3 separate regions of the Homo sapiens genome follow, and all the other regions are linked to region 2. The links come from fine-mapping of genetic effects on gene expression. A gene starts in region 2. Each other region holds a variant in brackets. All regions are shown on one strand. Distances are between the middles of the regions.

What was found. PIP is the estimated chance that this variant, and not a neighbour inherited with it, causes the effect.
Region 1: its variant is fine-mapped to the expression of TFEB in whole blood (TOPMed, PIP above 0.99).
Region 3: its variant is fine-mapped to the expression of TFEB in blood mononuclear cells (TOPMed, PIP above 0.99). The same link has a PIP of 0.9 or more in monocytes and whole blood.

Annotation. Positions count from the first base shown.
Region 1 is chr6:41,692,410-41,702,353 of GRCh38, forward strand. The region is part of intron 1 of TFEB (transcription factor EB); the gene reads right to left. Among named protein-coding and RNA genes, the nearest start is that of MIR10398, 36 kb to the right of the region's middle. The variant A/C (reference allele first, on the strand shown) is at 7,359.
Region 2 is chr6:41,730,629-41,740,572 of GRCh38, forward strand. TFEB (transcription factor EB) reads right to left here and starts at 4,980. Exons shown (of 9, transcript NM_001271944.2): 1 at 4,722-4,980. PGC (progastricsin) reads right to left here. Exons shown (of 9, transcript NM_002630.4): 6 at 9,863-9,944; 7 at 9,171-9,318; 8 at 7,102-7,200; 9 at 6,083-6,376. The coding sequence ends at 6,224. MIR10398 (microRNA 10398) reads right to left here and starts at 2,982; the gene lies at 2,926-2,982. RefSeq lists enhancers at 2,079-2,158, 2,176-2,872, 2,229-2,278, 2,769-2,878 and silencers at 3,529-3,968, 4,099-4,628, 4,669-5,138.
Region 3 is chr6:41,703,559-41,713,502 of GRCh38, forward strand. The region is part of intron 1 of TFEB (transcription factor EB); the gene reads right to left. Among named protein-coding and RNA genes, the nearest start is that of MIR10398, 25 kb to the right of the region's middle. RefSeq lists enhancers at 2,084-2,584, 2,101-2,320, 2,501-2,880, 2,585-3,085, 3,901-3,970 and 2 more and a silencer at 2,891-2,970. The variant G/T (reference allele first, on the strand shown) is at 2,804.

The sequences.
Region 1 (9,944 bases), 38 kb before region 2:
AAGTCCACAGGCTTAGGAGGGCCTGTATGGGGAGGGCCACTTCCAGGCACCTGGCACTGCCAGAGCCCAGAGAGGACTTCCCACCAGCACATCAGCCCTAATCTCCTACAGGTCTCAGTGGGACAGGTGTGACTTAAGCCCCCCAGCCCAGTCTGGAAGGAAAGACAGGGAAGAATGAGTCCTACAGCTTGGCCCACTCTGTCCCTAGCTCATTGACTGACCCTAGGTAAGTGACCCTGGGTAAGTCCCCTCCCCCTCTGAGCCTCCATCTCTCCATGCACAAAATGAAAGGGTTGGACCCAGTAATTTCTAAGGTCCTCCCCAGCTGAGACAGGCTGAGACTCTGAGAGGTGCAGGGCTCCTGAGTGTGTCCAGACCCCATGAAGGTCCTGGTAGGGGCTGGAGGGTCCCATCTTGGGGATATTGCAAGAGGCAGTATGACTTTGTGGTTGAGCAAGGACTTTTGAACTGAGAAAATATGGGCTTGAATCCTAGTTCTGCCACTTCTTTGCTGTGTGACCTTGGGCAAGTCACTTAACCTCTCTGAGAGTCAATTTCTCATTAGTAAACGGTCTCTGCTTCAGAAGATTGGAGCACTATATGAAATTAATAGGTCTTGCACAGTATGTAGCACCTGGGAGGCTGAGTGCATGAGACATGGATGGGCACATGACTGGCAGGCGAACTGATCAGTGTGGACCAGAAGCCAGAGCTGTGTCTCAAGCTCCTAACAATGAGGCCCAGACCTCAGGGGATAGCAAAGGGAAGCAGCAAAGGCTGACATGTTCTGGCTAATACCAGACACTGGACTTAGTCAGCATTAGCAAAAAGAACTGGCAAATATTCAGTGAAAATCACCAGATAATAGAAATAATAATAACTTGAATTTATTTGAGCATTTACTGTATGTCAGGCAATGTTCCAGACTCCTTCACCTGGAAGAGCCCTATGAAGTAGTTCTGCATATTACTCTCCTTTTATAGATAAGGAGAAACAGAAGCACAGGAGATTAAGTGTCTTTCAGCAGTGAAAGGGACAGAGCTGGAACCCAGCCCCAGGCAGCATGGCCTCTGAGCCCATGCTGGGGAGGAGAGGGTCTCCACACAGAGCAGGGAGGAAGCTTATTGCAGGCTGCCTGGCTGCCAGGCCCAGGAATGGAGCCCATGCCACCTGACTGCCAGCCAGGGCTCCTCCCACCACCACTGTGCCTTCCCGACAAGGTAGGAAGGCAGGCAGTGGCCCTCACCCCACCCTCCTTCCTTCTCTGCCCCTCTACACCATGAATCAGTAAAGGGGCTGTCTCAGCTCCTTGGGTCTCTCCACCCAGCTACCAACGGGGCAGTCCCCAGAAAGAAAGGAGCAGATGCCCACCACTCCCTTCCCATCCTGCAGCAGGAACACAGCTGCAGCCTCCACCCATGCCTTTGCCCACCCCCTTCCTATGCTGCTACAGAGGGTTATCCCTGTCTTTGTACCCCCACTGCCCACCACACGCACACTAGCCCTACAGACCTCATAGGCTCTGACCCCAGCCCAACCCACCCCCTCGCAGCTGTACCCTCTACACACCCACCCACACGGCACTGGCTCACCCCCCCACCCTTGGGGACAATCTGACTTCAGTTGGCCCTGGTGGGGGTGTGGGCACCGGGCCTGGCAGTGCCAGCCGGCACAGGGAGGGCTAGGGGAGAATGATCCCCTTGTTTCTCTGACAAAGAGCTGAGCGTCTGGCCTGGCCTCGCGTGGACTGGAGCTGGCTTTGCTATGAGGAGAGCCTGGGCTGGACCCTGCCTCTCACTGGCTGGGCCAGCCTCAGTTCTCTCATCTGCACAATGGACTTGGGAATCCCTGCCCCACCGCCCCCTGCCAGAATCTGGGTGAGCCTCCTGGGAGAGGACGTTGGAGAAGTGGACACAGTGAGGTGTCTGTGCATCAGTGGGTGTCAGTAGCCTCAGCTACTGTCCCCTGACAGAGGCTGGCAGGGTAGTGAGGCTCCCCAACCCCACCGCTGGAGCTGTCACACCCACAAAGCTTGTCCTCCAGTGAAGCTCCAGCCCTCTCCCCTGGCCCTGGTCGCCAGCCTGGGTTGCTGAGTGTGGTGTAGGTGGGATGGGTATGGGGTAAGGGAGGGACCTGAGGGGATCAGAGAGCGATGGGGGTGGTCCAGGACATGCTAATCCCCCCATCCTTAGCCTCCAAGCATGCCTACTCACTCTAAAATCCTGAGGGTCCACTCTCAGCCTCCCCTGACACCCAGTCTAGCCAGGAAGAACTAAGAGGATGGACATGGGAGAACCAAAATGTCCCTGGCCCCTCCCACCATCTGGCCCTTCAGACCCACCATGCCTGGAAAGGGTCCACTGTGTACAGGTTCAGTAACACTGGGGGCCTGGAGTGCCTACTGCATGTAGACACCAGGGATGGGGCACTTCCCTGGAGAGCCTTCTCCCCTGCCCCTCCCAGGTAACACCCTCCTCCTGAGAGGAAGGGTTTGATGCCCCCAGAGAATCCCTGCCTCTCCCCAATCACATGGCTGCCCCCATCAACACCCCCAGGACCCTCCAGCTGCCTCCTGCTGCTGTCCACCCACAGCCTCTCAGCTGACTCTGCCTCAAAGCCCAGACTGGGTTCCAGCTTAGTCATGTCCAAAATGAGTTCTGTAATCCCACAGGCTCACTGCCCCTACTGGCTAGGCGACTTCAGAAAGCTACTTCACCTCTCTGTGCTAGGCTGTCTTCCTCTCTAAAACGCAGCACCTGCTAATCACAGCACCTGCCTTTTGGGGCCATTGGGGGGATTCAAGGTAAGTGTGTGGCAGTCGCTTCATAACCAGGGATCCCGGTCTCCTCTGGTCAGGCCAGAGCTGGTTTCATCCAGTCTGTGTGTGGGCCTTGCCTGTCAGTCATTTACACCTTAGTATGAACCAGCCCATGAATCATGAAATGGTATATGTGTAGACAACAGGAAGATCAGAGTACCAACCGCTAAATGCTTCGTGAATGATTGCCATGGGTCAGGGCTGGTCAATGTGCTTTTCCTAATGTTAATTCTGTTTTTTCTTCCCAACAACCCAATGAGCTGAGTACTAGTATTATCCCCATTTTTCCTGGAGGAAACAGAGGCACAGAGAGGTGAAGGAACTCACTCAAGGTTACACAGCTGATTAAGTAGCAGAATGGAGATTTGATCCAGGCAGGCTGGCTCACAGCCCCCACTCTTTAACTACTATTCTGGGCTCTCCCAGCACCCCAAACTGTTCAGAGTTGTTACCGCTGGGGAGGGGAGTGGGAAGGGGCAATGGAGGGGGAGGGATAAAGAGGGATTTTTATAGTTCTTCGTTCCACTGGAGAAGCACTCAGCTCTTACAGTGGGAATATGTGCGACTTGTGTGATTCTGTTAACAGGAGAAAGGAAGCACAGCAGCTTCTGGGGGTTTATGGGGGGGCCCAACCTGCTTCCAGGGCTTCCAGTCATGTCCAAAGGTGGGTCGCCAAGGGGAAGGAATCCCCCCAGCTCCACCTGGGCTGGCCCAAGCCCTGCCCTGCTCGGTGCAGTGGTCATTAGGCCAGCCGCGGTCCCTGGGTGAGGACACCGAGTGGCCAGCAGAGGCACAGAGCCAGGGCCAGCAGCCACCAAGCATTTGGAGCTGGAGGGCCAGGGCCCCACTCAGTTTCTACCACAGCCCCAGACAAGGGCTTCTGAGGGGAGTACCATCTTCATGCAGTGCCCTCAAACTATTGTCAGCTGACGCCAGTCCATTCAGTGGCTTGTGAGGCCTGAACTGCCTTGGGGATTTTTCTGCCCTCTAAATGATCCTTTAAAACTTGGAGCAGGAAGCTGAAAACACACTCCATGACCCATGGACCCCCTCCTATGCATGCCCACCAGAAAAGCATCCACGTGTTCACCAAAGCACATATACTAGAATGTTTGCGTGTATAGGAACCAAAACTGGAAACCACCCAAATGTCCACTAAAGAAAGATAGATAAAGAAGTGGTGGGCCAGGCATGGTGGTTCACACCTGTAATCCCAGCACTTTGGGAGGCTGAGGCGGGCAGATCACTTGAGGTCAGGAGTTCGAAGCCAGCCTGGCCAACGTGGTGAAACCCCATCTCTATTAAAAAATACAAAAATTAGCCGGGCGTGGTGGTGTGCACCTGTAGTCCCAGCTACTCGGGAGGCTGAGACAGAAGAATCGCTTGAACCCGGGAGGCAGAGGTTGCAGTGAGCCGAGATCATGCCACTGCACTCTAGCCTGGGTGACAGAGTGAGACTCCATCTCAAAAAAAATAAATAAATAAAATAAATTGAAGTGGTGGTACATCCATACAATCAAATGCTACAAAGCAATGACAGCAAATGCACTGTTGTTACACATGACATAGATGACTCTCGCAGACATAATGTTAACGAAAGAACCAAGGCACAAAAGTGTATACAGCATGCTCTGCGTATATGAGTTCAAAAAAACGCAACATTAATCTACTATGTTAGAACTCAGGATCCTAATTACCCTTGGGGGAGTGTCTGGGAGGGGACACAAGATGGCTTGGTGGGTAAGAGGATTAGGAAAGTTTTGTAATTTGATATGGGTGTTGGTGCCATGAGAGTGTCATATTTACAATAATTTGTACAGCTGCTCCCTTACAACTTATAATTTTCTGTATGTGTGTTGTATTCTCATTTTAAAATCACATAAGAATGAGGGCAGACCAGCCTGGCATGGTGGCTCACGCCTGTAATCCCAGCACTTTGGCAGGCCGAGGCAGCCAGATCACTTGAGGTCAGGAGTTCAAGACCAGCCTGGGCAACACGGTGAAACCCTGTCTCTACTAAAAATACAAAAATTAGCCAGGTGTGGTGGCACATGCCTGTAGGCCCAGCTGCTTGGGAGGCTGAGGCAGGAGAATTGCTTGAACCCGGGAGGCAGAGGTTGCAGTGAACTGAGATCACACCATTGCACTCCAGCCTGGGCAACAAGAGTGAAACTCCATCTCAAAAAAAAAAAAAAAAAAAGAATGAGGGCAGACGTTAAATAGTTTAAAAGAAGAGTTAGGGAAACTACCTTCACCAACACCACCCCTTCTCCAAACCCCCCCCCTTCCCCAAGTGTGTCTATGACTTTAAAATGCCTTTGGTACCAGGCACCTTCAACACAACTGCCAGAGCATACCTTGGTACAACCTCTTTGGAAAAGCAATTTGGCAATATATGTCAAAGCCTTGAAAAATATTCACCAGTCCAAGGAAGTAATCATAGATGCAGAAAAGGATGTTGTGCATAAAGATGCACTTCACATTATATGGAAAAAAGTCAAAACTAACCTCAATGTCCAGTTATAGGATAGTTAAATAAATTACGGTGTGTCCCTCCTGATGGACTGCTATACTTACAATAAATAACATGAGGATATGTCAGGTGACAAAATGTAGGATGTAGGGGGAAATTGTATATAAAATCTGATCATCACAATGTAAAAATATGTATAGAAAAACCTCTTGGGAGGAAATATACAAAATTATTACTGACTTCTTTGGATGATGTAACCATAAGTATTTTGTGTGGTTTTAAAAGCCTTTTGGAATGTTATTCTTTCTCTAGAATGAAGATGTATATCTTTCTAATTGAAAAAAAAATATTTTATGCTAACAGCTAATGCTCATAGAATGCTTACTGTGTGCTAGGTACTGTTCAAAGCACCTTATGTAATTATCATAATTATTTCATGATATGAGTGACGTGGGTACCATTATTGTCCCCATTCAAGGAATGAGGAAACACAGGCCCAGAGAGGTGGTCACTTGCTGAAGGTCACAGAGCTAATGAGTGGCAAGGCTGGACCCTGGCAGTCTGGCTGCACCGCCCCAACCCTGGGGCTGGGAGTTTGGCCTCAGTCCTGCATTCAGGGTGAGGGCGGCCACGTTTTGTTTTAGAAATTCTCACTGAAGAAGCCTCCCTGCGATCAAAGAGTTTCAGCGGCTGATCTCGTTCATCCAGCCCAGGAGCCAGAGGGTGTCCGGGATGATGGAACAGTCTGGAATCCCCAAACACAGGCAGAAAAAAAAATTCTACCCTTCCTCAAAGAGCAGAGATAATTTCCTGTATTCCCAGAAAAACATATGTCTGGCGGCTGAAACAACAAAGTGTGCAAGCCCAGAGGCTGGGAGGCCTGTTTAAGCCATTGATGACGCTCTGCACCTCTGTGGTCGGAAGAAGTTTTCTTCTGATTCAGTCTGTTACACTCTCAGTCGTGGGGGAGCTGCCCGGTCAGTCCTGGGGAAAGAAACTGACCGCTAAACAAAAGCTTCCTGAACAGGTTCGAGATTCCTGGAGGCAAAGGAAGGGCTTTGTGGCCTCCTAGGAACCTTTCAGCCTAGGGAAGGGAAGAGAGAAAAAAATACCAAACTTGGGATTTTTCTCAGCCCCCTCTGGCAGAGGAGGCAGCAGAGGAAGTCCTGATGAACTAGGAAACAGAACAAGGACATCACATAATCCTCATGGACAAAGCCATTCCACATTACGGAGGTGGTCATGAGTCACTGTAGGGCCTGGGGAGGGGGCATCAGATGGCCCAGACCCAAACAGAGTGAGGGGTGGAAAGGTATCCTACGACTCCCAGGAGCCAGCAGTCCTGCCCATATGATGCTGTGGGAAAGGCCAAGTGCTTGGGTTCAAGTCTTAGCCTTGGGCTGGACTCAATTGTCTGGGTATGGCCTCAGTCTCCCCATCAGTCAAGCAGGGCTTGCCAGCTGGGGCCACGTCTACCTCATAGCAGTTGTGCTCTAAGTGAGGAGGCTGGGTGTGTAAGTTGTCTTGCAGGTGTGAATTTGTGGGCAGAGGGGAGGTGTCACCATTCTGGTCACTGTTCAGTGTTGCTCCGTCCAGGCCCACTGGGGGCATCCCTGCATAAGTTCCTTTGGGGAAAGTGTCCCATCCATTCACCCATTCATTCACACATACACACATACACACCATCTGAAAGCCCAGACTGGGGCAGAGCAGCCTAGTGGTAACCCCAGCTTCAGTCTCTCCTTACTAGATAGGGGCAGGAAGGCCTCAGGCCAGCTTTTCCTATTACCAGGAGCCCTCTGTTTCCTCTCCAAAAGCCTTGGGTCTTTTAAGATTTTCTTTTCCAGAGCTTGTATATCATGTCATTCACTGCAGGAGATGAGAGAGGCAGGTGAGCAATAACAATGTCCACTCCTTTGGGTTCTAAGGGATAAGTAGTCGGAGTGTTTACCACAGTTCCTGGCACACTGGAGATACTTCATAATATAGCCTTTTATTATATTAGCTGGCAACTTCCGATACAGAAACATAGCAAACCCAGGACACCTGGTAAGTGTGCACTGTTTG[A/C]TTGAAAGGTCCTTGATATCAGAAGCAGAAATGAGGTCAATGGGACACGCACATGCTTTTAACAGTTTTAATGCCATGTTTTGGTCTTTTTCCCTTTTAGTGAAGTGTAACTTATCCTAGCAAAATGCATAGATTTGTAGTGTACAGCTCAATGAATTTTTACAGGTGTGTGGCCTTGTATAATCACTGTTTAGATCAAGATGGAGAATGTCACCATCACCCTGGCAGGTTCCCTCCGGGACCCTGTCCTGCATCACCATGGCTGAGTGCTATGGTCTCCAACAGCACACAAAGGCTGTCATGCAGGATGTGGTCTTCAGTATATTTCATGAAATGGAACCGCTCTGCCAAGTGGGGACACTTACTGAGGACTGACCAACCCCTATTTGTGATGAATAAAGATCAAGAAACAAAAGAGGCTGGGCGCGGTGGCTCACGCCTGTAATCCCAGCACTTTGGGAGGCTGAGGCGGGCGGATCACAAGGTCAAGAGATGGAGACCATCCTGGCTAACACGGTGAAACCCCGTCTCTACTAAAAATACAAAAAATTAGCCGGGCATGGTGGCGGGCGCCTGTAGTCCCAGCTACTCAAGAGGCTGAGGCAGGAGAATGGCGTGAACCCGGGAGGCGGAGCTTGCAGTGAGCCGAGATCTCGCCACTGCACTCCAGCCTGGGCGACAGAGCGAGACTCCGTCTCAAAAAAAAAAAAAAAAAAAGATCAAGAAACAAAGAATGAATTACATGAGGAAGCAGAGGCTCCAAAAGGGAGATCTGCACAATGCGCTTCAGTGGCAGCAGAGCAAGACCCCAGGATGCGTTCTGCACCGCCTCTCCCAGACCCCCTGCAGGAATGCGCTGCGGGAGACTGCAGGGCTGGGGGCAGGGGGCAGTCAGGGGCTTGTTTTTAAATCTCTGAGCACCAGCAGGAGGTGGGGAGGAGGGAAAGGAAGGAGAGGAGAGAGGAAGGGCGGTCACACAAGCTCCTGGCCCACTTAATGGCCTCCTGTTCCCACAGCTCAGGCCCATCAGCCCCAAGTTTCAGCTCACATCCCACAGGAAAGGGTGGGAACTGGCGCCTCCTGGCTGGTCAGACTGTTGGCCCGGGACAACAGGGGGAGCAGCTTCAAAGGCCATTGCAGACCAGGGAGTCGCCCTGTCCTGTCCCACTGGGACCAGCTGGGCCCTGGCAAAGACGACTGCCACTGGGCATGGCAGGACAGGGACGAGGGACATGTAGCTAATAGGAACATGAAAGGAGAAACTAGAAAAGGATTCCACCCCTGTGATATGCACGGACCGGCCCAGCCACCCATGTGGACGCTCTGTCTCTCCGTGTCTGCTTCTCTTTCTCTCTTCTCTCTCACACACATGCACGCACACATGCACACATGTCCATGTGCACACACGTGTAGCCGCATCCCTCAGCTGCCGCTTGCAGTCTAAGGATCCCCTTAGCAGGCAGCCACCTTTCTCCTGGGTTGGGGAGTGGTGGGACTGAACCCCCACCCCTTGTGCCCCTGCACCCGCCTCCTGGGCACTCCATCTACTCCAGCCTCCTGCCTGTGTCTGCCATGCTTTGTTCTCTAGTTGTTTCCTTGCCACCTACCAGTCTCCTCAGCTACAAGGAAGTTTCAGAGAAATCACTTTTCTTCTTCAGAACCTCCACACCATCCCACCCATCAGACTTTCCAGAAAGAGATGCACGGCCCTCAAGGGCTGCTGGTCCAGTGACCCCCACACACTCAGTTATCACCCACTTGGCAAACGCTCCGAGTCCCTCCCACATTGCACTGCGCAAGGGGCCTCTGTTCAATCACATTCATCCACACAAACACTTGATGGGATAAACAGCAACACAGCAGGATAGGAAACCGAGACTCAGAAAGGTTAAGTAGGCCAGGCGCAGTGGCTCATGCCTGTAATCCCAGCACTTTGGGAGGCTGAGGCAGGTGGATCACTTGAGGTCAGGAGTTCGAGACCAGCCTGGCCAACATGGTGAAACCCTGTCTCTACTAAAAATACAAAAATTAGCCAGGCGCGGTGGCACATGCCTGTAGTCCCAGCTACTTGGGAGGCTGAGGCAGGAGAATGGCTTGAACTCAGGAGGCAGAGGTTGTAATGAGCTGAGATCGCACCACTGCACTCCAGCCTGGGCGACAGAGCAAGGCTCCGTCTCAAAAAAAAAAAAAAAAGAAAGATTAAGCAGCTTGTCAGAAGTCACACTGCAAGAGCACAGTGAAGTGGGGGTTCAAGCCCAGGTCTCTCAGGTATGTGACCACCAGCAGCTCCAGCCCAGGAGAGGTAACCTGGGGCCCATAGGAAAGGTCTCCCCATGTAGATGGCTTGTTGTCCCCTGCACTCCCAGTCCTGCGCCCCCCTCATCCCATGTCACCCTCAGCGAATCCTACAGAGGTTCCCCAGAGAGGCCTGCATGCTCCTCAGCCCTCCCAGACCCCACCCACAGATGCTTTTTGCTAAATAGCCAAGACATCCATGCCCAGGAGGCTCAGAGGGTGACAAATCTGAATCTCGCTGAGACGGTTAGCCCGCCTGAGAGCCTGGGTCGGAGGGGGCGGAAGGGGAGG
Region 2 (9,944 bases):
CTTTGCCATTTCACAGCAAAGCATTTCCTGTGGGCATGATAAGTCCCAGATCCTACCCTATCACTGCGATTTTATCTCTGTCCCCAATGACATCACAGCCAAGGGGATCTGTATCTCTGGTGCAGTGTGGAGGAGGGACAGATGATAGGAGAGCAGGGGACAGCCACAGCTAGGAGTGCATGGTCAGTGGCCAGGCCAGATGCTACCCAGGGAAACCCAAGTGGCAGGGCAGGGGTGGTAGAGATGCCTCAGGCATTGCCAAGCCCCCTGCACCGTCTTATTCAACAAGGAGAGGAGGCTGGTGTGGTGGGACAGAGAGTGGTGGGAAGCCCCACGTAAAGCATTACATCAGAGAACATTAGACACATGGAGAGGCCTGTTTGCAACCCATAGGTCTTTATTCCTTCCCTAGAGCTCTCCATGCCTCTATTTCCTCACTTAAGAATGAGAAATAAATAACTCACTGAGTCATAACAGTTCATTAGGCGCTATTCTAAGTACTACATGTGCATCAATATCGGCATACTCAGCCCTCACGACAGCACTAGTAGGTGGGTGCTGCAAGAACCCTCACTTTTTAGGTGTGGAAACTGAGGCACAGTGGGGTTAAGCAGCTTGCCGAGGCTCACACAGTGTTAAGTGGCAGAGCTGTGCAAGCCACATAGCCTGGCCCCAGAGCCCACGTTCTCAACAACCCCCTGACCAGGTGACACTGGTCCAGTGCTCAATATATAGTGGCTATGGCTGTCCCAAGAAAAACTTCCTGGTTGCTTCACCAGGACCAGTCTTTAGCTAAAGCTCAATTCTGCGGACTGCAGCATCTCCCAAACACCCCTAACAACCCACCCCCACCACCCCTTGCTTTCTCTTCCTTTTTCTTCCTCCCCGGTGCCTTTGGCAAAGATTTGTAGAAGGTTCGCTTTGGAGGGAATCCCACAGATGATCCAGATTCACAGATATGGAAACTGAGGCTGAACAAAGCAGAGACCTGCCCAGCCACACAGCCAGTGAGAGGCACAGTGGGGTCTCTCGACTCCTGGTCCAGTGCTCTTATGACTTTACTGCCGTCCCATTCTCACCCAATGATCCCCACAGCCTCTTCTGCACATCTGATTAAACAAGGGCCTGCTGAGGGCTGCACTGTACGTTAATGGACGTGGAATGCATGGCACAAAGCCGGGCACCTAGAAGGCCATCAGTAAGGATGCCTCCTCCCTTCCTGGGTGTCTGGGGCTTCCAAAGAAGCCCAGGAAGTCTTGCCTGAACCAGTCTCCTTCCCTGGCCAGTCAAGACAGGTTCCAGCCGGAGGTCCTTTGGTCACCCATGCTGGCAGCTCAGAAGAAAGGCCAGGAAACAGGTATGGTGCTCAGACAGGGGCCTCAGCAAGTTCCCACCCTGCTTTTTTATTTTTATTTTTTTCATACAAATTCTTTTTTCAATTGAGTCCAGGTCTCGCTATGTTGCCCAGGCTGGTCTCGAACTCCTGAGCTCCAGTGATCCTCCCACCTAGGCCTCCCAAAGATCTGCTTAGAGCAGGAAACCCTGGATAGAGAAAAGAAGGTCCCCAGACCACCACACCCCCACCTTTTAAGAGAGAACTCCTGGGAAACCCCTTGAAGAAGTGGTCTTCTTTAGGGACTGAGAACACAGACTTTGGAGTCAATTGGACCTAGGTTAAAATTCCAATCCTGTCACTTCCAGGCTGTGTGATTTTAAGTGACTTGCTTAACCTCTCTGAGTAAGTAAGTGTAATGCAAACAGTAATTCCCACCTCACTCTAAACACACAATAAATGTTGGCAACTATTGTATAATCAATCTTATTATAATATTGTTCTAGTATAGCATAAAAGAAGAGATGAATATTCTATTAATATAATCTTGTTTTATTGTTACACTCTCATAGACACACATGCACAGTTCATCTCTACCCACATTCCTAGACACTTTAACCACACACACAAACTCACAACCATTACATAAACCCCACACCAACCCAGAAAGCAACATCATGTACTCACCATGTACCAGGCACTGCCGCACCCTTAGTCCTCACAACAGCCTGTGAGGTGGGTGTGTTTTCATCTCCCTCCTCTCAGATGAGGATCCACACTGTACATGCATATATGTTCACTGCGTCCTGGGACGTGAACATTTCTGGCAGCTCTGGGAACCCTGAACTCCCACCCTCCGATCAGAGGAGGCCAACCCAATTTCCATGGTCATCTCCAGGGCAGCCCCAAGCCAGGCCCCAAGTGCTGACTGCCCTCCATCCCCAGGACAAAGGCCCAACCTGGTTTTCATGACAGCTGTGGTTGGGGAAACCCCTGTTGCCTGCAGAAACCGAGTTGACTTTGAAAAGGAAGAGACAGAACCCAGGGGGTGGCTGGGCTACTCCCTGTGGGGGCAGGTGCTAAGTAACTCTATTAACTCTGGCTAATGATGCAATTACAGTCATAAACAGAGCCCCAGGAGGGCTCAGGGCCAAGAGCTAGACCCTCAAAGGGCAGCCAGACTTGAGGGGTGGGAGTCCCCTTCCACCTACTTCTCAGCTTTCCAGAAACAGGCTGAGGAGGCCTGTGACAGCGCACGTGGGACCCTGGAAGGGCTCCTGCCTGCCCTGGCCCACTCCCTGCCCACCTCTGACTGTGAGTCACCAGGCCATTAGCCCGTAAAAGCCCAGTTGGCTCTCCCTAGATTCAGTGCCCACCTAGGGTGTCCCCTGCCCTATCCCCTGAACTCCTTCCAGGGCACCCGGAACCAAGATACCTGGGTCCCCATTTGGCTCCGTCTCCCAGAGCTGAGTTGAGGACAAAATAACCCTGCAGCTGTAACAAGCCTTGTAAATGGTAAGCACCATTGGCTTCCCTCGGGGAGAAGCAGAGCATGGAGTCACCCAAACAGCTCTGCCCTTCATTTACACCCTCTGGCTCCCAGCTCTCCGGGCCCCGCGGCCAGGAGGCAGACGGAGAGAAGGGAGCCAGGCGAGTTGCTCGTGGTCCTGGGGCTGGGGTCACCGGCATGGTGAAAGCATACCGTCAGGTTAGCAGGCAGGGACCTCAAGGCAGCTGACCCTTCCCTTCCTCTGCCTCTGCCTCTCCTGGCCGGCCAGGAACTATTGCTGGCTGTCCCTCCCCGGACAGTGAGCTCCCTGAGGGGAGGGCCTGAGGACTGTCTCCCAGTCGTGGCACCAAGAACTGCGTTCTAACCGAGCGCATCCGCATCTGTCCACCCAGAAGGAAACCAGAGACCAGCCTCCAACCTCATCCCCAGCTGCCCAACAGTGCCAGGTCTGGGCCAATGGAATCTCGGCCAGGGCGGGTGCAGGGGCCTGAGGCCACACCCCAGAGGTGTCACTGGGGGCCTGCATCCGTCTTGTCCCTTTCCCTGAGGGATGAAGCAGCCCCTCACTCGGGATGGGGGGAGGGCAGAGGATGGGAGCTGGGCAGTAATTAACCTGCACTTCCCCAGCGAGCTCTAAGCCAAAAACTGCGCTCAAGTTGAGTGCAGAAGCTCCGCGCTGAACCGTCCCCAGAACAGACAGGCGAGAGAACGACGGCTGGAGCTGAGGGGGGTTCGGGGGAAGGCGCAGCGGCCAGGGGCTGGCGGAGAGCGGAGGGCGGGGGCCTGGGCCCAGCGGGGTTCGCGCAGACAAGCCCCGCCCCGGGCTCCCTCCCTTCCTCACCCGGGGCGCGGGGCTGGGGCGCGCCAGGCGGCTGCGGCGCGAACCTGCTCGCGCAGCCCGGAGCAGCTCGGGGCAGCCGTGCGTGAAGCCGGAACCCCGCGCGGGGAGGGGGCCGAGCTGGCATCTGCCCGCTCCCTTCCAGGAGGCGAGCGGACGCGCTGGGCCAGAGCTGGTCGGGACAGCCCAGGGGTGGGCGGCACGGACTCGGGGGATCGGGGGGAAGGGGGCGTGTTTTCCGGGATTCGGGACCGAGACGGGGGGAGGGGGAAACTCGGGGGGCGGGCAGGCAGCTGGGAACCCGGGGGGAGGCAGACAACGGGGCGCACGGAGGGAGCGCTCCGGGGTTGGTGTTCCCCAGGGTCATAGAATAACCCACGGGGAGAAAGAGACTGCCCAGGGACTCGAGGGGACGGGGCCAGGGGCGGCTTCTTCAAGAGACCGAGCTGGAGGAAGGGACGGGAAGGGAGGGAGAGATGGTACTTCCACCCGCCCCCCCATCAGCCCAGCCCCCGGGGCGTGGCGCCGCTCTGGCCCTCCCACTCCCCCCGCTGGCCTGGCCAGACTCAGCCCCCGCACACCTCCCCTACCTCCGACCCCCTCTCAGGCATCGCCGGCCCCAGCCGTGTCCGGTGGAGGGGGAGTGGGCGCGGGGCCCGCGCGTCCCTCAAACTTCTTGCGAGTTCACCATCACGCCTCCCGCCCCTTCGACTCCCAGCTCCGGGCCGGGAAGGCCCATGCCCGCCCGGCCCCTCCCGCCCGGTTACATAAGGTCGCGGAGAAGCCGCCCCCGGCCCGCGCCTGAAGGGAGGGGCCGAGGGGGCTCCCGGCTCGGCGGGCAGCGCCGCTCGGGCCACGCGCTGGGCGCCCGGGGGCGGACGGACTGCGGGTGGGTGGCGGCGCGCACGGTCCTGCTTCCCTCTCCTGCCGGCATCCCCCACCCTCCCACCTGTCTCCGGGACCCACGGGATAGGGGCCAGGGAGCCTGGGTCGGGGGTCCCGGGCCCTCCTCGTGCCTCTCGCTCCCCGGTCCCGCTCACCTCGCTCTGAAGGTCAATCTGTCCGCCGCCCGCGCCCCGCGGCTCCGGCAACTTGTCGCAAGTTCGGGTGCCTGGCCCGCAAGCTGTGCCCGCCACCTGCTCCCGGCCTGCTCCGGCCCCGTGCCACCAGGGAGGCCCGCCCCGTCCGCCCTTCCCGCCGCCGTCGGCGCCGCGGCCGCTCCCTGCGTCCCGCCCGGGCCGCCGCCTCCGCTGTCACCGAGCCCCGCGCCCGGCGCCCGGGCTCCGGCTGTCACTCCACGCACACTTCCCTCCGCGCCCGGCAGAGGGCAGCACCCGCCCCGCCTCCCAGCCGCTCTGCCTCGGCGCCCACTGGGAAGCGTAGTTCTCGCTGCAGTCCCGCTAGGCACGCCGGGATTTGTAGTCCCGCTCAGCGGACTAAGGCTTACAGGGAAAGAGGCTCTTGACTTGGAACCTCTGATCCACTTCTACCTCTTTGCAAGTTTTCTTTCTCCTCTCAGTAAAGTCCCAAACCAGGGCTCACTAAGATACATTCTGTAGCCTGTCCGACCCCCTAAAAGGAACCTGCAGCCTGCTGTCCTTCGGCAGTCTAAGAAAGAGAGGGTCCCAGATGGTGTGCTGTTGCCATAGAAACTCCACCTGTGGCAAATTCCAGCTTCTCTTCAGGAGTAGGGTGCAGGACCTGGATCTTGCACTTTTATCCCTGCCCCGATCATAAGGGGCAAGGCCAGGGTGAGCCTGGCGAAGTACAGGGTAAAATATGACAGTAGAAGGCAGCCTGCCCCCATTATGGGTTCTACATTCACGCCCCACTCACCAGCCTGAGCTTGCTGTCATGTTGCTGGACAGAAATTGTCTGAGCTCCTTTCATGTCACCTTCCCTTGTTGGAAGTTCACAGGGTGCGGAGGCATCATTCTCTACTTTCTCCTCTTCCCCGCCCCTTTTTCCCTGTCTCCTCCCCCAGCCCCTCCCCTGCTTTTCTTCTCCTTCCCCTCCTCCTTTTCTTCCTCTCTCTCCTCCTTCCCCACATACAATGTTGCTCCTGGTTTCTGGATCTTTTGCTAAGAGGCTCCTGAGGAGGACAGGGATGAAGTCCAAAGGGACAAGATCCCTTGCTGAGTTGGTTCCAGCAAATAGGCTCGATTTCTCTGTGACTCAAGTAGGAACACTCTCCCCCGGCCCGCCACCCACCCACCCATGATGGCGCTACCACTGTCTTCCCTTTCCAGGGGAAAAGTATGAACTTTAAGCTCTGAGGGTTACAGAGCCCATCCCAAGCCATGCCTTAGGTCCCATTTCTCTTAGAATCACAGTGACCCACCAGGAAACCTTGTAGCCACTCAGGGAAAACTCCCTTCCAAAAACAACAGGATGACCAACATAAAGAAGAACTATTTATTATTAGAGAAAGTCCAGAGTCCAGAAAAAGAAGGCTGAATCCAGAGTGGAAAGACAGATACAATGCCCTAGGAGGGTGCAGGGTCAAGAGGAAGAGGGGAGCCCACGTGTCGAGGCAGCAAGTCTAGGCGGCAGTGGCAAAGCCTACTCTGTTGTTGCCCAAGTCGTAGACGGAATAGTAGGACCTGAGGAAGACATCCCCGAGGATCCACAGGGGCTGGCCGTTCTGGGAGGACAGGTAGGTGGGCTCGACTCCCACGGTGCAGTAGCCGTTGTTCTGCTCAACAAAGAAAGGCAGCACTCATTCATTTGTCCACACATGAGCTGGGCCCTGCTCAGCTCTGAGCCCTGGGCTGGGAGCACAAGTGCAGAGCTGAGGGAGCCAGGGTCTCTGCCTTGAGGGCTCATAGGCCAACTGAGCCACCAGAGCAGAGCGGGTGGGAGGATTTCTGGAACAGGTACATTCAGGCTGCCGTGGTCCTCAGCAGGGTCTCCTCTCCCCATGATGGGAAACTTCTCTTCCCACAGACCTCCCTCCTGCTCCCAATTTGGAGCAGATCAGCCTGGTGGTTAAACCTTGGAGCCAAACCAACTTGAATTCAAACCTTAGCTGTGTCGCCTTGAGTCAGTTACTCAACCTCTCTGAACCTCCAAGTTTTCATTTGTAAAACAGAAATGAGTATCTCCCTCATTAAATACTGTGACAATTAAATGGGATCATGAAGCAAAGTGCTTTGCACAGTGGTCTGCCCTAGTAAGTGCTCAACAAAGAGCCCAGTGCCTCTCCCCACTAATTAATAATAATTGATCATAGATGACAATCTTCTATTTCATAGCCTTGTTCCAGAGAAGGGGGTTTAGAATCAATGAGTGGGGAAGATAAATGAGTACAAGCGTGGAGTCGGAAAATGGCACAAGGCAGGAGACCCAGCATTTCTGGCTCCCCAGCCCTTCCTCCCAACCCCAATCATGGTGGCTCAGCCTGCAGGGACCAGGACTTACACTGAGGATATAGGAGGAAGGTGGCAGAGGGAACTCCACACCATTGATGATGAAGGTCAAGCTGGGCAGATTCTGAATGCTGTTACAGTTCACGAGAAACTGCAAGAGGAATAGGTCCCTGGTTAACTCATCCTCCCCCTGATAGCACCCACCAGCCCCATCATCTCAGCCCCTGGATCCCAGGCCTGAGCTCCGGGCCCAAGCCCTAAGCCTGTTTTTGGACTAGAGAATGCAGCTCCAAGGGAAAGTCCTGTGTAGGTAATGCTGGCATTATCCCATGGACTCATAGAATGGGTGTGATTTGGAGTGATCCCAGAGCCTCCTAACTCCTCTTGCCTCGATTTCCCATATTAAAGATCGAACCTCTGCTCTTTCTCTGCAAGTGCCTATATACATATATATGCATATATATATGCATATATATATACATATATATGCATATATATATACATATATATATGCATATATATATGCATATATATATGCATATATATATGCATATATATATGTATATATATATGCATATATATATATGCACACACACACACACACACACATACACAGGCATGAGCCATGATGCCCAGCTTGCAAGTGGCATTTTAAAACACGCAGATCTGGCCGGGCATGGTGGCTCGTGCCTGTAATCCCAATACTTTGGGAGGCCGAGGTAGGCAGATTGCTTGAGTCCAGAAGTTCGAGACCAGCCTGAGTGACATGATGAAACCCCGCCTCCACCAAAAATACAAAAATTAGCTGGGCATGATGGCACACACGTGTAGTCCCAGCTACTCAGGAGGCTGAGGTGGGAGGATTGCTTGAGCCCAGGAGGCGGAGCTTGCAGTGAGCTGAGATTGTGTCACTGCACTCCAGCCTGGGTGACAGAGTGAGACTCTGTCTCAAAACAACAATAACAACAACAACAACAACGACAAAAACAACACAGATGGCTGGGCGTGGTGGCTCACATCTGTAATCCCAGCACTTTGGGAGGCCAAGGCAGGCAGATTACTTGAGGTCAGGAGTTCGAGACCAGCCTGGCCAATATGGTGAAACCTCATCTCTATTAAAAATACAAAAAAATTAGCCAGGCGTGGTGACATACACCTGTAGTCCCAGCTACTCAGGAAGCTGAAGCCAGAGAATTGCTTGAACCCAGGAAAGTGGAGGTTGCAGTGAGCCAAGATCACGCCATTGCACTCCAGCCTGGGCGACAGAGAGAGACTCCGTCTCAAAAAAACAAAAACAAAAAACAAAAAAAAAAGAAAAACACAGATCTGCATAATGAGTACCCCACTGGTCTCCCAAAATTAAAATTAGTGGTAGTGGGCTTGGGTTAATTAAACAAACCCTTGGCTGGACTCAAGACAGACAAGCGCAGGGGAGCATGGCCCTGTGGAGGTGAGAGAGGTGGGGATAAAGGGTCAGCCCTGGTTGCTCACATACTCAGCCCCACATTCCAGTCATTTTGCTCTTATCCCAAAGTCCAGCAAGCATTTCCTCTGTTTCTGCTGAGTGACTGCAGCTCAGAAGAAATTCCTGCCTAATAGTAACCTCCTTCTCCCCTTCAGCACAAGCAACTGGCCCCGCCTGAACAAGCCTCCAGGCCCCCATCCTGCACACAGCCCCAGTCGTCCCAGGTCCCCCTGCCTCCAGCGCCTTGGGCAGATAGAGGCTTGGAGGTCAAGAGTTAGGCTTTTTTTTTTTTTTGAGACAGGGTCTTGCTTTGTCACCCAGGCTGGAGTGCAATAGTGAGATCACGGCTCACTGCAGCCTCCACCTCCTGGGCTCAAACAATCCTCTCACCTCAGCCTACCAAGTAGCTGGAACTACAGGCGCATGCCACCGCACCCAGCTAATTTTTGTATTTCTTGTAGAGACAGAGTCTCGCCATGTTGCCCAGGCTGGTCTCAAACTCCTGGGCTCAAAAGATCTGCCTGCCTTGGCCTCCCAAAGTGTTGGGATTACAGGCATGAGCCACGGCGCCCAGCTGGCTATTGTGTTCCCAGGAGAAATCATGAATGCCTCTGGAGTAGCCTCCTGGGGAAGAGAGACACCCTCACCAGTCACACCTGTCCATACTCATCCTCCTGGGCCCCTGTGGCCTGCAGAAGAGCACTCATGTACTGCTGGGGCACAGTGAGCAGAGAGGTGCCTGTGTCCACGATGGCCTGGCAACCCTCAGAACACCAGCCGGAGGCCTGGCCGCCGATGAGGAACCTGTATGGGGAGAAGACAGGCAGCCTCAGGACTCCCCCAGTTCAGGGCAGCTGGGGCGGGCTTTCCCCACCACTGTGGGACAAAGAGCTACAGCTACTTTCTTGAGGAAAGTGAGGACCCTGCAAAGATCAATCCGGCTATTCCCCTGCATCATGCCATGGGACCTAGTCCTTAAAAGTGTCAAGGAAGTTTCTAAAAACACTGAAAACCAGGTCCACTGATTCATTGTAAGGACTTTGAGCAAATTAGTTGCTAACACACCTTCGTTTCTAATCTGTGAGCCCATGATGGGGCTGGACTGCAGGGTCCCTAATGTTCGGGAGTCCAGGTCCTGCCCCTCCCTATGTTGTCCACATCCACTCTCTTCTCCAGGCTGAGCTGGGCTTTGTCACCCCTGCAGAGGACAGTTGTGGCTTTGTAGGAGTAAGCCTCAGGGGTCCTCTGCCCCATCCCAGAGCAGTGCCAGACTGTGTGTGTGTGTGACATGGCCTGGAAGCCCACTCCAAGGAAGTGCCACATCCCCAGGGCCCCACCGCAGACTCACTCTTCAATGCCAATCTGCCAGTAGAGTTCCTGGGTGACAGGCGCCCAGTAGATCTGCCCCGTGTACAGGCTGCTATCCACAC
Region 3 (9,944 bases), 27 kb before region 2:
TCTGAGTACTTTGGAAACAACCACTGTACAACTGAAGTAGCCAGGTCTTCCTAAACAAAAGAAGACAGTGGAGAGGGGAATGGAGGAAGAAAGGACAAAAACATCTATGAGCATGGACGATTGCATTGAATTCACAGAAGGTGGCCTGTTTTCTCTCAGGTGCAAACCAAGAGGCATTAGTACTATGCACACTGAGTGCGTACTCTGCACCAGGCACTGTTCTGCATTGATATGTGTTACTGATTTAATCCTCACCACAGCTCCATCCACCATGATGGAGGCGTTCACATATCCCCTGTTTTACAGAGGGGGCAACTGAGTCACAGAGAGGCTGAAAACTTGCCCGAGGTCACACAGTTGGTAGGTAGCAGAACTGGGGCACCTGGTCTCCCCACAGTGTGCTGGGTGCCCCTGTGGAGAGTCTGTCTGGAAAGTGCCAGAGGAGGCAGGTAGGGGGTCTTGAGCCCATCAGTGAAGGGGCTCTTGGCTAAGCAGGTGGGTGCAGGACACCAGCCTCCCCTCAGCTCTTGTTTCCTCTAGAACTACTCCCATTCAACCCTCCTTCCCCTCAAGATATCCTTTCCATCCAAAACCACCCAGGACTACCCTTGCAGTTCCCCAACAGAGCCTCTGACCCCGCCTCCACCTCCACCACGTCATCTGTCCTGAGTCCGCCCTCTGGAAGACAGCCGGGCTTAGTGGATCACGAATATGCTCTGGACCCTGACAGACCAGAATTCAAATCTGGCTTTGCCATTTGTCAGCTTTGTGACTGGGGGCAGGTGCTTAACCGCTCAGAGCCTCAGTTTCCCCATCTGTACAAAAGGATGGCGGTAATGCCACCTTCCTCAGAGTCAGTGAGGGGGTAAATGGAACTGAAATATGTGATGTGCCTAGCACCTTGGAGGTGGTCTGTGAGTACTAGCTCCCTGCCTGGGTGACCACCAGCCATCTGGCTGGACAGTGAGGGCCTTAGATGGGAGAGGGCCTCTTAAGGCATTGCACGCCCTGTTTGCTGGTTAGAAACAGGCTCTCAGGCCCTGCCCAGACCCACTGAGTCAGAATCTGCATTTTAACAAACTGCCCTGGGAGATGTGTGGGCACATTAAAGACACTTTACTTGTTGCCTTCTGGGGACTTAGTTCCCTGGTTCCAAGCATGAAAATTGGTGGCGGGTGGGAGAACACAGCAGGGAAGCACAGGCCCCTGGTGGAAGCACAGAGCTATTTTAAAGGACAGGCAGGGCCCTTCTGAGCCCCACAGGGAAATTAAGCAGCCTGATTCTCAGGCTCAAGAGCCAAGGTGGAGGCCAGAATGCAAGGCTGCAGGTGGGCTCTGGCTCACTGGGTGCTGGGGCTCTGGCCCGTGCAGGAGGGGAAAACAATCCAGGTCTATGGGGAAACAGCTTCAAAGCCGAGATGGTTACCAGTGGAAAAGCAACCCAGACAGACCATATGAGACACACCCATTCATGCAAACACCACCTCTCACACATAAGCCACTGTCCACACATACACACTCACCAGTACACACACACTGCACCAGGACTTGCCTGCCTGCCCAAAGAGCAGCTCCAGAAGAGAGCAGACAACCTTTGGGACAGTGTGTGCCTGGGCCTGTGTGCTCCGCAGGAGGCCTGGGAGTGTGGAGGCTCCCACAGCAGGTCTAGGAGCCCACTCTCTCCTCCACACGGCTCTGCCTCTGCCTCCCACCTGCCTAAACCCCAGCTCCATCTGAACAATGAGAAACCTACGTCCTGCCCACCTGAGGTTGGCAAGGACCCAAATTTTAATTGGTCACCTGCCTGCTGACTCCCCTCTCCCCCAGTATACCACCATCCTCCTCACCAGGTTGCTGGGGGGTAATCAGCAGAGTGGAGCTCTGACTTCAGGGTTCCCTGAGAGGCAGCCATACCGCAAGGCCTGTGCCCACTCCCATGTACACTCACACGGGACAGCTGTAAAGTCCACCCTCTTCCCAACGACACAGCTTCTGAAGGGCCAGGGACCCTCATCCACCCTGTCCATGAAGAGGTGACAGCTCTCAACTCCACACCCATTTTCAGCTCAGAAACACACATCCACTGACCTCTTTCACCACCGCAGGCTGGACCTCTTCCACCACCACAGGGCCCCCCAGGCTCAGATGGGCTCCAAAGAAACCCTAAATCATGGGGCCAGAATCCCAAGCAGGCCTAGGATGTCCAAAAAAGAACCATCAACTAGGGAGGGTCAGTCTGGTCGCAGCAGGGTGTGTGATTTCATGGGTTCTGGAAAGGCCCTCGGCCCCAAAATATCTTCCCTCTGGGTCCGGAAATCCCTCCCAACCCTCAGATTCACTGCCGGGAGAGGCTCCCACCTGAAGCTCTCGTCAGCTCACACCCCTGGGAGAGGCAGCTGACAGCTGGCCTGAGAGCGGCCAAAGATGGGCGGGGGAGAGTGGGTGCCAGGCCTGGTGACCGTCATCTCGCCAGGGCCGCCCTGCCCACGAGTTCCCACCAGGAGAGGGCGCTCTTCCTCCCCAACCCCAGAGCGCAGGTCCCCAGAATCCAGCACCTCTGGCCAGGGAGAGGGGCCTAGCAAGGACAGGGGCCTCAGCATGGCCTTCCACGTCCATGCCAGGGGAAACCAAGGCCTGCCCCAACTGTCCCCTTGAGGAAGCTGAAGTGCCAGACAGCTGGAGGGGATGGGAGCCCTGAGAGCAGGGAGGTGGGGGGCAGAAGGGGGAATTAACCAGGTTCCAAAATAGCAGAGTTGGTTCTGCCTCACTTCACCCTGTGCAGTGTCTGGCAGCTTCTGCTTTC[G/T]ATCTGAGTCACGCCTGGTGGGGGCAGGACGGGGCAGCCAGTGCTGGCAGAGGCCACTAGACAGCACAGGCAGTGGCCCAGGAACTCAGCGGGGGCTCTTCTCCCCTCACAACACACACCTACACCCACCCCCAACCACCCTTACACCCCCCCACCCCCATCCTGCCCAAGAGTTGGGGTTCTGGGAAGAGCTAACAGGGGCCCACCCCAGGATTCCCAAATGCTGTCAGCTGCCCTAGACCCAGAATTCAGCTTTGCTCCTGCCCTGTCCATGTGCGCTCCGGCTGGCATTCCCACCCCATCTCTGTCAGGGAGCCAGAGGAGGAGACCTGACCTGGAAGCCACCATCTCCCCCCATAGAGGAGAAATGGCCTCCTATGGCAACATTCCAACAGCCCACCAAGTCACCCACCCACCGGATGGAGTGAGTGAGCTGTCCCCCAACCTGCCCCCATCTCCCCCCGCCCACACCCAGGTATGAAAGGAACAGGAAGCAAAATTCACACACACACACTTCCAGCCCTTTTCCTGTCCTTAAACACCATAAGAAGCACTCTGCCTTTACCAGGACAGAGCGAGGAGTGGGGTGTGTTGAACTCTGCATGTGATGGGGTCGGGGGAGGAGCATCGGGAAGTCTGCTCTTTCATCATCATTCTCTTCCACTCATCTGGGCTCCATGCCCTCCTGCCTGCCCAGCCCCAAGGCTCAGAGCTGCTCTGCTTTCCCCCATAGAGTTGAGACTCAGGCAGCAGCTGCCTTACACCTTCTCCCTGGACCCAAGATGCTTGAGCTCAAACCTGAGACATAAACCCCATCTTCCAATGCCTGAACCAATCCTCTCTGTTCTCCTCCCAACAACACACCTGCCTGGAGTGAGTGCAGCCACCTTCCTATCCAAGTGGCGGAGTGGGGAGATGATAGACTCGGGCTGCCATGGCTGGGCCTGCCCACAGGGTAGGGAATGGCACAGGCAGACACACTCCTACCCCTGCCACCCCAGCACACGCACCCAGAGCAGACCTGGTTTGGAAATGAAACATCAAGGGGAAAGGCTGGGGCTGGTGGCTGGAGGAAGAAGTCAGAGGGGCTGTGACTTGGCGTGCCTGCCTGTGGCCCAGGACCACGTCTCCAGGGGAAGCACACCGCCAGGCCCAGCCCCTGCCCCATCCCCATCTCCTGCCCTTCCCCTAGCCCCCACCCCAGAAGGCCTTACCTACACGCCACTTCCCTCTTTTAATTCTTCCCATTCCCTCAGCCCTATAGGGTGCGAGACCTGTAGCCTGAAGCTGGGAGGGCTGGGGATGGGAACAGGTGGAGCCCAGGGGAAGAAGGCTCCTCTCCAAGAAGCAGACATGACAGAGCCTGTGCCAGGGCAAACAGGTATGCCACCGCACGAAATTACTCCCCCACCAAAATGTCCCTGAATTGTATCCTGTTCCTGACAGAGACACAGAGGGAGGCTACTAGGAGGCTCAGTTCCCGGCTGACTAAAAGGCAGCCACGTGGCGGCCATGGGGCTAGGGGAAGAGGCAGGCGCAGTGACAGAAAGGAAAAGGAAGTCAGAAAAACCACTACAATCACAGCCTCAGGATGCTAGAGTTGGGAGGGAAGTGGAAGACGGCTCTAGGCTCTGTGGCGCTCAGCACGTCTGTACCTCCCTCTAGGAGAGGATGCCATGCCACAGGGGCATTGCTGGCCTTGCACAAGGCCTGGGATGGGCGAGCCAGTGTCTGCCACATGGCAGGCGCCTCAGCCGCACAGGTCACCTTCCTCTGCTGTGAGTGCCTGGAGGCATCCTGACAGCTTCCTCTTTTTGTCCATGGCACCTTGTAGATGCTCCCTAAGTATCTGTGAAACACAGTGAGCGTGGAACTGGCGACTGGGGAAGGGTCTGCCTGGGGAAGCCTCTTGGACATAGAAAGGGAGATGTGGGAAGAGGGCTTGGCAGACCCCCAGGGCTGGGCTTGATGAGGTGGCAAAAGCTATCAGGGCCCCAGCCACATGCTCTGGGCCCTCACGATGTCAAAAGTGCCCACCTGAAGATTTCCAGGTGCCAGCACCTGAATTGGTGCCTGAACCAATGAAGTTAGCTCCCTCCCTTCCCCACCACCTCTTAGCCAAAGACACCTATCACTTGACTGGGGAACTCTAAAGCATATTCTGCAGAGGCCTCCAATGGCAGTGAGCCTCAGATGCCCACAGTCACCTTGCTCCTTCACACACATTTTATCAGCTTCCTTGCCTTCCTGTCTCATGAATCCTACTCTACCACTGGTGCTCCCTGGGGGAGCCTCCCAAATAAACTGTTTGCACTCATATCCTTGCCTCACCCAATGGGCCCTGAGGAGGCAGTTATGACCTGATACTGAATAGCTAACTCTAAAGCTTAGAAATAGGGGCCAATAAAAGGGTCAGAGTAATGCAAGCTAGCCCACCCTACAGGGAAGGAGAGAGGCAGGTGTGAGCTAGGGGAAGACCAGTCACTGGGGAGACTGGTCAAGCTGGATGCAATGGCCAAATGTGTACTTGGAACTTCCCCACTTGGCGGAAGGTTAAGACTGCCCTCAGAAGGAGAGCTGGGATGGTAGAGAGAAGAAAACAGGACTTGCCAGAGTTGCAAGTTGCATGGAGAAGAAACCTCCATACCGGGGGTAGTGATGGCAACATTAGGTTGCTGGTAGCAAATGCCAGTAGGACTAGAAGCCCAGCATTGCCTTCTGCCCCCAGGCTGCTCCTAGGATAGAGCTATAGAGCTCCAGCATTCCAGAACCTTGGCATGCCTGTTCATTCAATAACACAGCTATTATGTTCCGCACTTAGAACTAGGCACTGGTGACACCAACAGAGGCCATTTGATTAAACACTAAGAGTGTGTGTTTTGAACCTAGTCAAGCTGAATCCCAGATCTGTCACTTTCTAGCTGTGTGACCTTCATCAACTTACTTAAATTCCCAGGGTCGCAGTATCCTCATGTGTAAAATTAGGACAATATCCACCCTGGAGAATTTCTGTAAGGATTAAACATAAAGTATCTAATGCAGTACCTGGCACAGGATAGGTGCTCAATAAATATTAGATGGATGCATGTATATAATGGATGGATGGACATAATGGATGCATGCATAAATGGATGGGTGGATGCATGAAAAAGTAGATATAATGGTTGGTGGATGGATGGATGGATGGATGGATGGATGGATGGATGGATATAATGGATGCATGCCTAAATGGACGGGTGGACAGATGAAAAGGTGGATATAATGGTGGGTGGATGGATGGATGGATGGATATAATGGATGAAAAGGTGGATATAATGGATAGATGTATGCATGGATAGATGGATGGATGTTTAAAAGGAGATGAAAAAGGCACTAGTTGTCTGCATCGTTCCCATCTGGTTCAATATCCCTTTCCATTAAATTTATTTTTTATTTTTATTTTTGAGACAGGGTCTCACTCTGTCATCCAGGCTGGAGTGCAGTGGCGCAACCACATCTCACTGCAGCTTCACCCTTCCAGGCTCAAACGATCCTCCCACCTCAGCCTCCCAAGTAGTTGAGACCACAAGTGTGTGCCACTATGCCCCCACTAATTTGTTTATTTTTTGTAGAGATGGGGGTCTCATTATGTTGCCCAGGCTAGTCTTGAACTCCTGGCCTCAAGCGATTCTCCTGCCTCAGCCTCCCAAAGTGCTGATCTTTCCACTAAATTTATAAACGAGAAAATAAGATTCCATCACTCCCTAATTTATCTATTTTGGAAATCTACATTTTCATTAAACAGGTTGACAAATATAAAGTAAGATCCTTCTAATGGGCCTTAGCCACATAACTGGGGCAGAGTCATTCCCTGAAGGATGTATAGAGTTACATCAGAATAGAGGATATCCTCCTGGCTCAGTTGCCTTCATACCAGCTCCCACCATGTGGTCATGCCATGCCAGTACCCATCTCTCAGCAAGTCCAACTCCACCCAACTCCTATTCCAGAGAAGGTGGGTCAGGGACCAGATAAAGGAAGGGGAAGCCAGGTAAAAGCACAGCAGGGACAACAGGCCAGGATGGCCAAGGAGAAGAAGCCAAGAACAGAATGCAGGGATTTGGGACAGGGGTAACTACGGATCAGAAAGAAGAGGCTGAAGAGCAGAGAGGATTTATTGTCTTTGGAGAAATGAAGAAAGAAAATATTCCTCAGAGAACAAGGGAGCAAAAACAAAATGAAACAGATGGAGCAACATAGAAAGACCATTTTTTTCCTGCTCCATCACCCCCAATTGCTCTCCACTACCTACCAGATAAAGTCCAAGCGCTCTAGTTGGGCCTCCAAAGCATGCAGGATCCCTCTCCCTAAACAAACACTGGGTGCAGCCAAGGGGACCTCCTTGCTCTCTCACGCCAACCCAATCTGGGCCCCCAGACCCTCCCCCAGTTCCTCTCCCACAGATTATCCAACTTCTCCTCCTCTCTGGAAGCCCTGCTCCAGGGTCTCCTCCTCCTCCCGACAGCACACCCTGACTTCACCCACCTCTAATCACCATTTGGGCACAATTACTTACTCTGTTCCAAGCCTGGTTCTGTGTCTGAAACAGGAATACAAGGATGAATAAGACAGCCCTTGCCCTATGGTTTTTACAATCCAGCTTGGAAAAAACATCATCACCTGATAGCATATATTGTATTTCTTCTACCACTATGGATAATACTAAAACTTGTATTGAGTTGTAAAACCATCTATCAAGGATGGCTTCTAAAGCCGTGATAGAGCCAGTGCCAGGCCCTTGGCTTTATCATGTATTAATTCATTTGGCCTTCCCAATAACACTAGGAAGTAGGAAATACTACTGTACTCATTTTACAAATGAGAAACAGGTACAAAGAAGTCACCTCTCTGGTTTTCTCAGCTGCAGTGTGAACTCCTTGAGGGCTGTCCCTTGGTTTCCTCCTCTCCCACACAGGCTCCAGGTAGAGGACACTCGGACATGGCCCTCTGGGCTCAACGTCCCCACCGCTGTGGCCTTAGGTGAAGGTGTGCTGACTGGTGGGTGGGAATGGTATACATGCAGGAAAATGAGCGCCAGCAGAATGGAGGAGACTGGCCTCCCAGGTGGGGTATGAAAGGACACAGTCTCGGTGTCCCCTTCCAGCATCTCTCTTCCCTGCCTGTCCCCAAGGTCCAGCCCTGGCATTTCACAATCCTGCAGTCACTGCAGAATTCCCTGTCCCTTTGCTAAGAGCGCTGAGGTGGTGTAGAAGGAGGGAGCCAGGCTTCATGCCCAAGACAGACAGGGGAACAAAAGGGTGGGCTGTTGGAGAAGGGAGGAGCCCTTCAGCTCCCCCAAGCCCCAGGGGGTCAAGCCTCTCTGAGTGAATAAGCCTAGCCTGGAAAGTAAAACACAGGGCAGGCCCCAAAAGGGTCATGTCTGGGCACCCTCACCTTGGCAGGGGGGTGGGGGAACATGGGCCTGCGGCAGAGGCAGGGCCCTCATGGCACCGAGCTGGGCTGCCCCCTTGGCAGGCTCACCCAGCTCAGAGGCCTCTTCAGGCTGGGAAAGCTGAGGAGGTGGATGGCTCAGACCCAACTTAGAATAGAACCATCATGAGGCATTGAGTGGGGTTCTGGGTTGGTGAAGGGGGCTTCGCACAGCCTATAGAGCTCAGCAGTGGGGGTCCAGTCCCCAGCCCCGGCCATACCTCACCTCAATATTTCTATCCCCTCCTAGAAGGCACAGTGGATGTACAGTGCAGGTAGAGCAGGGAAACTGAGGCACAGAGCCTGTCCTCCAGCTCTGGAAACCTGCTCTGCCTGTCTGGCCACCAGCACCATCCTTGAAAATGAACCCCCATGTTTCTCACAAGCACACAGGACTCCAAATCCTACCATTCCAGGGTCCTACAGGACTCCAGATCCTACCGTCTCAGGGTCCTCTTCTACCCTGGGGACATATATTTTCGAGAAAGAGGCTCCCCAAAGTGGGGCTGTGGAAAGAGGGCACCGTGCCTTTTCCTGAGTCCTGGTCTGGGATTGGGTGACGAGACCAGTAAGGGGCTCAGCCACAGCTCTGGGCTCCAACCCCGGCTCTGCTTCTCACTAGCCATGAGGCCTTGGGCAAGTTACTGAAGCCTCTCAGGGCCTCAGTTTCCTCCTCGGAGAACAGGACTAAGTCTCCCTGCTCTTGTCTCTCATAGTTGATAGTATCCAAAAGGTCCTGGTACCCCACCCAGGACTCATACCCTTAATCACTAGTCCTCCCTCTTCCTCCTCACCAGGGGCCCAAGGGCTCAAGCACTGGCAGGGGCTGCTGAGGAGCTGACGGAGCCACTGCTGTTGATAGAGCCGGTGCCAGGCCCTGGGCAGGCACGGGGCCCAGGCACACAATGGGGCTGTGTGTGCACCCAGCGTTACTCTGGAGTGGAGCTGGGCAGGCAGGCTGGCATCTGGGGTCAGGCCAAGAATTCATGTCTCTGGAGAAAGCCTCCCCACCCCCTCCCAGGCAGCACAGCTCTTTCCAGGGGTGAGCAAGCACCACCCACTCCCCCACCCGGCCTAGGAAGGGAATGGGAACTTGCTCTGGTGGCAGGTACTGGGAAATGGGGACTCCTGAGTCTAGCCACTGGCTGGGCTGCTCGCTTGCGAGGCATTTTGGACCTATTACGTAATCTGGGGTTGCAGCCTCCTCTTTGGCCAGAGGGAGGGTGAAGTCTGCGGGGGCCAGGAGAAGGAGCAAGAGAAGTCTGGCTGCGACCCCCACCCCATACAGAGGGCCTCAGTCCTCCCTCCCCAGCTTACCAGGGCCCTGGGCTCAGCACAGGTTTTCTGAGGCACCCAGGACTCCTGGCCACCCAGCCTGCACCAGGGTGCTGGGGTACCCCAGGAGAGGAGCTGGCTCACTCCCCAGGAGAATGAGTCACCAGCTGGCTGCAGCCAGGATGGCGAGGCGGGTGGTGGGCAGGTGGAGCTTGTCCTCTCCTGTCCCTGGCAGGTCTTCTCAAGCTGGAAAGCCACTCAGCTGGTATCAGTGCTGACCACAGCATCCCAGCCCAGGCCTCACTGGGCCACTTCTTCTGGTGCAGGGACCGTCTGGCCGCAGGATTCAGAGAGACTTGATCCCCTCCGGTCCCTACGCTGACTCACTCTTATAGCT